2 linked regions of the Homo sapiens genome follow. Changing the gene in region 2 together with the main gene of any one other region gives a genetic interaction. Each region holds a gene or a part of one and is shown on either strand. Other genes may lie near its edges.

Region 1 (3,500 bases), on a different chromosome or scaffold from region 2:
CAGGGGGAAACACTCCTCCATATGTGCTCTCCCAGGCCTGCTGCAGTAATCAGCTGAAGGCTATACAGGTACCCTTGTGTGTGAGGTTCTAGTAATTGGGTTGTTTTCCCAACTTAGGAATGATCCAGGCCCTGGGAGGCTTCTTTACTTACTTTGTGATTCTGGCTGAGAACGGCTTCCTCCCAATTCACCTGTTGGGCCTCCGAGTGGACTGGGATGACCGCTGGATCAACGATGTGGAAGACAGCTACGGGCAGCAGTGGGTGAGTGGGCACCTCTGACCTGACCAGTGTCAGAGCTCCTCAAGCCCCAGAAGACTGAGGCCACACTGCCACCAGCCATGCAGGTGAAGAGCCAGAGCTCATCTTCTGTCTTCTGCATTTCAGACCTATGAGCAGAGGAAAATCGTGGAGTTCACCTGCCACACAGCCTTCTTCGTCAGTATCGTGGTGGTGCAGTGGGCCGACTTGGTCATCTGTAAGACCAGGAGGAATTCGGTCTTCCAGCAGGGGATGAAGTAAGTAATGAAGGACATGTCAAGGCCTTGGCTCAAAGAAGGGGACTGGTGATTTGTAAACCCTTTGCCAAAAACTAAACATATGACACATATAGCCAGGTTTCTGGAATCTCTAGTTTATAGAGCAAATTTAGGAAGCAAGAAATGTAGCTTTCTAGTTTTTTCATCTGACCTCCAAGTTTTCAAGTACAGCTAATACATAAAGATGTTGATCTGCCATTTTAATGCATAGCATTAGAAGATAAACCTTTATTTGCACCTTTTAAGTTTTTTCTCCCCTACTTTGATTTTAGGAACAAGATCTTGATATTTGGCCTCTTTGAAGAGACAGCCCTGGCTGCTTTCCTTTCCTACTGCCCTGGAATGGGTGTTGCTCTTAGGATGTATCCCCTCAAGTAAGTTGATCCTCTGGTAGCTCCAAAAAGTATGAAATAGTATGTGTGGCTTTTCCCCCCATTACTTGTGGTAATAGTTGTTATTTTCAGAATTTTGAGTGGTATGTACAAAAATTCCTATGGGTTGGAAAACTGTGAAAGCTTGACATGTCAGTAAATCAGACTAACAAATCCTGAGGCTTCCATGATAGCAGCTAGTGTTTAGGATTTGGCCCAAGATAAGATAAAGCCACACAGGCTCTAGCTCCATGGAACTGCTCAACAGCGAACTGCATTGAGCACTCAGGTCTGCCACAGCTGTAGTCCAGTTGTCTTTAGAGGCCAACTGGGGGTATGCTGGAGCGTAGGCGCCCAGGCTCAAATCTTGATTTGCTTGCTTAGTCACTGTCCCATTACAAGTCATCCACCTTTCTGAGACTCTGAATACTCTGCTCTCAAAGAAAGAAGGTTGGAGAAACAGATCTGAGGTCCCTTTTACTTTATAATCAGTCATGGGTAGAGTTGATCAAAGGAAGCATACTGCTAGTCTTTGGCCTTAAACACAGTGAATGACTCTGCATTTCAGATAAACTTGAATTTTCAAAGAGGGTTTATCACAAACTCCGTTAGTTTTTTGCAACATTGAGTATGTTTGGTGATACCTGGTTGAGGTTAAGCAACTGCAACTTGATTAAAACGTGCAAAGCCACAGATTGTGGGACCCATTTACAAGTTCCTTTGAAGCTTTTGATTTAAAGCATTAGTCTCCTTTGAATTCCTGCTGTCCTCATCCTTGCTCAGACCCGTCTGGACCATCTCTCAATCCCCTGTTGCCAGCACTTCCTTCAGCTCATCTTATCCCTAAAGTAACCAAAACCCATCAGCCTCATTCACTTCCTGTGGGTTATGTGCAGACATCGTCTGTGGTGCAAGATGAGACTGGCATCCAGAGTCAGTCTCATTGTCCCAACCTGTCTTTATAGCTTTCTCTTGTACCCCTTACCCATCCAAGCTCATGTTAGGTGAATTCGGCTTTCTTCCTCTGCCTTTGTGTTTGGTAAGATCCTTCCTCCCCACATCCCTCCTTCTGTTCCCTCTTACCCTGCCAATCCTGATAGTCCCTTCAGGGCCGGTTTCCTTGGAGCTTGTCCCTCCAGGGCCTGTGCACTTGCACCTCTTCTCTGGCATTACTTGTTGCTTGTCATTTCACCTCCCTGCTAGGTTTTAATCTAGAAGGCATGGGCCACAGTGTCTTTCTTCTCTGTGCATCCCCAGCTCCCTACACAAAGCTGGTGTACAGCAGGGGCCAGCCATCTCCAAATTGAATTCTGTCAGCTTGGGCCATTATGTATCAAGATGGGGCTTGGAGAGGTCACAGAGCTTTCCAAAAAGGCTGGTGGAAAATTACACTGAAAAGGGGGCATTTCCATCTTCTGGGTCCTTCCCTGGTTTTTTTGCCACCACCAAAGAGATTGTTCTGACAGGTTCTGCCCAATTTTGGAAGGTGGTTCAGTTATTCGGTGACTGAGTCAAATGAGATCATCTCTCTTAGCTGCCTTGTCAGACACACAGGAAGAAGAGGAGACCACCGGAGTCCTGCCCAGGGACAGCCTTTCTCACACCATAGCAGGGAGCTGGTGATCACGGAGGCTGCCTGGAGCCTGTCAGCAGGCTAGAGACTGTGTGGCTCAGCCTCCAGGCCCCTTGGAAGCCTTCGGGCTCAGCTTTTTTCAGTCCCCAGGACCAGGCCTCAGAACACAGAGCTGATATCCCAAATGCTGTTGTCAGAGATCAAATTTGGGGAATGCATAAACTGGTTTTGACCCACACTGGCAGGTCTTTATCTTCAAAATGCTGGGATATTAGGCAGATGGTCTTAAAAAGCTTCTTAAACACTTTAGAAATGAAAGAAAGAAAATGTTCAGTTGCTCTGGGATGGTTAACAGAAAAGTACTCTGCTCATCCTATAAACCAAGTCTTATGAAATCCAAACTGAAGATGAGTAGGGATTCCATTACAAAGTCTGCAGACTGATTTCCTCTGCGTCTCTAGGCCCTGGGCACATGGAGTAGCAATCTGTTTTAAGACATTTTTATTTGTTCTGTTAATGACTCAGTAGTTAACTGTGACTGTACTTGGCTTCTCCTTTCAGGCTGATTATTTCATTGTCACTGGTGATGTGCAATTTCTCTTTCTTTATTTGAACTGTGTTCGTGTGCATATAAATTGGTACCTTACTCTATTTCCAGACCTACCTGGTGGTTCTGTGCCTTCCCCTACTCTCTTCTCATCTTCGTATATGACGAAGTCAGAAAACTCATCATCAGGCGACGCCCTGGCGGTAATTATGGGCATTCTGACTTTGGTTGGAGGAGGAGTGGGAGGGGCTATAGTTCTATTGGTTTTTTGTTTCCCTCAAGGTGTCTAGGCTCCCTCAGTGGTCAGTCTGATTAGCTAAGGTGACTGGACCAGCAAACTGACCATAGTCACATCTTCAGAATGTAGATCTCAGTTACAGTTTGAGGACTGGTCATGTTTTAGACTTTAAAATACAAACCAAGTATGATTTAGTGAAAACTTGTCAGAATCTAAACCATCTTTCCAGGTAA
Region 2 (3,500 bases):
GCTTTGGCTTTTTGTCCTAGATAGTCTTCTTATTCACTTTTCCCCAAATTTCAATCAGTAATTTCATTTAGCAAATGTTTACCAAGAACCTACTGGACATAAGATGCTCAGCCAGACTTACTGGGTGGTACTCTAGAGAGGCAAAACTCCAGGTTGGTTGTCCTACAAATAATCCCCAAGAAAATGATATGAACACAATAAATGCAATGAAATCTGCTTGCAGGAAAGCATAAGAAGCCAGAAATGAATTACGACCAACTGCAAAAAGGAACAAACTAGTAGAAGCACTAAAATTCAATGAGAAGATAATTTTTAAAGTGGATGAAATTGAAGGTGCATGTAACATTATCACAGATTTAAAATCATGCATATTCTCCATAAAACTTTTCAAATGCAGTTAAACACACACACACACACACACACACACACACACACACACAAAACCAAGCAATTATAAGTCCTCTGAAGCATGTAACTGTGATTAGCTGCTACTCTCAGCAATATAAAAATACTTTCACCACAATTACATTCCAGCCTGTAATGTAATTCAAAACAAACAAGTCAGAGACATCGCTCAAATGACAGAACCAACAAATACAGATGCTTTGCATCAAGGAAATGAATCTACTGAAGAAATGCAACTGAGGAGCAGCAGCCCCTCCAGGGCCTGGAGCTGAGCTTCTGGTGGAACGGCGAGGCCCCCTTCTGGGCAGAGGCACACAGTGCGCCCAGAGGGCTGTGCAAAGCTGCCCTGTAGTCATGGAGGTGAACTGGGGACTTCCTGCTGTGGATACCCTTTCCAGTGTTGTGTTCAAAATTTTACATTTTAGATTTTAAATTTATTATATGGATTATAAAAGAAATAACCATTTGTTTCAGATTAAATTGATCATTCTATTTTTCAGTCAGCATTCTCACCACCAAATGGCACCTATCCCCTTTACCCTGTGTTCCTTTTGCTTTTTGCCATAACTCTTATTGTCCTCCAATAAACTGTGTAATCTATCATATCCATCTCCCCTTGCTAGAATATAAGCTCCATGAGGGTGGGATAATTTGGTTTTTTGCTCAATAACAATTGTCCCATTTATGTCTTTATCTTTTAAGACTATTCATCTTCAAATAAGACATAAATAAGGTTTTATTATAGCAATATGCTATAATTTTTAAGTGACAACTCAAGCACTTGTTTTAAAAGTATGCATTTTTTCTAAATGCTTTATAAAAGCAAAGTCTTTTCTAAGGACCATATAATTATGGTCTCTATATACACAACTTATATACAATTTAGAGAGAAGTCACAGCCCCCAGTGCCCTGGAAGAACATCGTAGCTGCAAAAAATGAAGAATCTGATTCTGAAATGCCAGTCCTGGAGAAGGTGTTCTCAGGGTGGCAAACTGCAGTCCAAACACACTCCAGGTCCCTGGGTCTGGCCACACATTCTCTAAGAAGTCAGCACTTGCCTGGACTGGGCACTTGTGGCTAGAAGGGTATGCACTACTTGCTAATTTCTAAAACCTCAAACCTTAATTTTCCCCCATCTTAAAATGGGAATCAGCTTCTGGAAAAGCTAATAACTGTTTACAATTGTCAGACTTCTAAAAAGTGCTAATTTGTTCCCTTAACAGAGCAAATGATGAGAGACACCATTTTCCTGCAGATTAAAAACAATATATAAACATATGATTCAACGATGTCAACAGCTTTCAGTCTATGAATCTTGTCCAGGTCACTTTGGGTCACTTGGTTCTTTCATCAGAACATGTTCAAGATTTCTGACATTCCTTTTTCCGAACTTTCGATTTTGGTGCTGTGAAAAGAATAGAAAAGAAAAAGAAAATGAAGAGGTAAGCTCATAGCAGATTCTCTTTGTATGGATTTAAGGGAAGGACATTATCCACAACAGAAAACTGACCATTTGGATTTTCTTGTTTGTAGAAGGTCTTTAACATTTCCACTGCTTCCTCAGCCCGATATCCAGGGATACACTGATGGAATGAGAAAGTTGAGAATAAACATAGGCCTATGAAAATGTGTGCTGTATCCCATAAAAACAACATATATATACATGATTATGTAAACAGATTTCAGATGTTAATAAACTTTGGGGATATTAGTAACATGGGTAAGGAGGTACACTTCCAAAAGATGTTTGATATATCATCTTTTTCATTACTCCCAATCAACTGTTATTAGGCATCACTCCCAATCAACTGTTATTCATCCATTAACTATTATAGAAGTTACCAGCTTTGTGATCTTGGGTTAGGCACTTAAACTCTCCATGCCTTATTTATACAATGCTGGCAATAATAGCACTTACTTCAGGGGATTTTGTGAGGATTAAGTGAGATAATACCTGTTAAATACCAGGCACATCATAAGTGCTCATTAAGCATTAGTTATTTTTATCTGCTCCTATTTACTAGTGGTCCATTAAGCATTCCATGCTATAGAGCTAGGGTTGGCAAATTATACTTGGTGGACCAAATCTGTTCCATAGCTGAGAACTGTGAGCTAAGAATGGTTTTTATATCTTAAAAGCTTTGTTAAAGAAAAAAAAAGACTAGGTGACAGAGATGTAAGCGGCTCACAAAGGGTGAAATATTTACTAGTTAACCCTTTGCAGAAAAAGTTTATCAACCCTTGCTACAGAGGATTTTAAAAAATAAAATACAGCTTGTTCTATCTTTAGCATCTAACTGGGGAAAAGAAATCATAACATGTGAAAGAATAAATAAGAAATTGTGCTAACAGTAAGGAGTGTTATATGAAATATTACCTGAAGAACATGAAACTTGAACTTGCCTTAGAGATAGAGAATATTTAAAGAGGCTAAGCAGAGCATTTCAGGGAAAGGGCAAGAAGAAGCCTGGGTTGTGTGTGAGGAAATCAGCTGACAGAGGAGGAGACTATTAAGGAAGCATAAGGAAAGAAAGACAAAAAATTGGGGTAAAAATATGTACGGCTTTGAAAGCTTGTCAGAAGAGTTTGGACTTAAAACCAAGCACCCTTCTGAAGTGCATGAAGTGACACAATGAGCATCTGGAAGGAAGGAGCCAGAAAGCATAGGCACAGAGGACAGGAGGACCAGCTACTGTGAGATGCTGTTCAGAACGAACCTCCCATTCTCCTGTGTCTTCAGTCTGCCCTTGCCTGGGCCTCCGACACCTGCATAAACCTTCGCCATAACAAATAACCTTCCATCCACCCTGTCCCGTCAAAGGCTGACACCCTGCTCCTGCCTTCACTCCTCAGTGGCCTCATCTTCACTGGCTTGAGTTCCCAGCACTTCACTGAGTCTGCCCTCTCAGAAATCCCCAGGTCCCTACTGACCAAAACACTTGCCTCCTTTCAGATTCCTCAACTCTGCAGTCCTGGAGGCAACTGGCCACACCTGCTCTGTCTGACCGCTCTTGCCTCCCTTGGCTTCTCAGCATTTTACCATCCTAACCACTGCCAGCCAGTCCCGTCACAGCTGCCCCCTGCTTCCTGCTGT

The links. Genes that interact genetically often act in the same process or in processes that back each other up.
Region 1: changes in ADAT2 (region 2) and ATP1A1 together harm fitness less than expected from each alone (positive genetic interaction), as found in Homo sapiens cells (one large-scale study listed by BioGRID).

The regions. Positions count from the first base shown.
Region 1 is NC_000001.11:116,400,744-116,404,243, forward strand, and holds part of ATP1A1 (sodium/potassium-transporting ATPase subunit alpha-1), read left to right. Parts: intron 1-117; coding exon 118-263; exon of another isoform or gene 264-386; coding exon 387-517; intron 518-810; coding exon 811-912; intron 913-3,140; coding exon 3,141-3,232; intron 3,233-3,500. UniProt on the Homo sapiens protein: This is the catalytic component of the active enzyme, which catalyzes the hydrolysis of ATP coupled with the exchange of sodium and potassium ions across the plasma membrane.
Region 2 is NC_000006.12:143,426,696-143,430,195, forward strand, and holds part of ADAT2 (tRNA-specific adenosine deaminase 2), read right to left. Parts: intron 1,990-3,500; coding exon 1,917-1,989; intron 1,812-1,916; coding exon 1,768-1,811; 3' UTR 1-1,767. UniProt on the Homo sapiens protein: Probably participates in deamination of adenosine-34 to inosine in many tRNAs.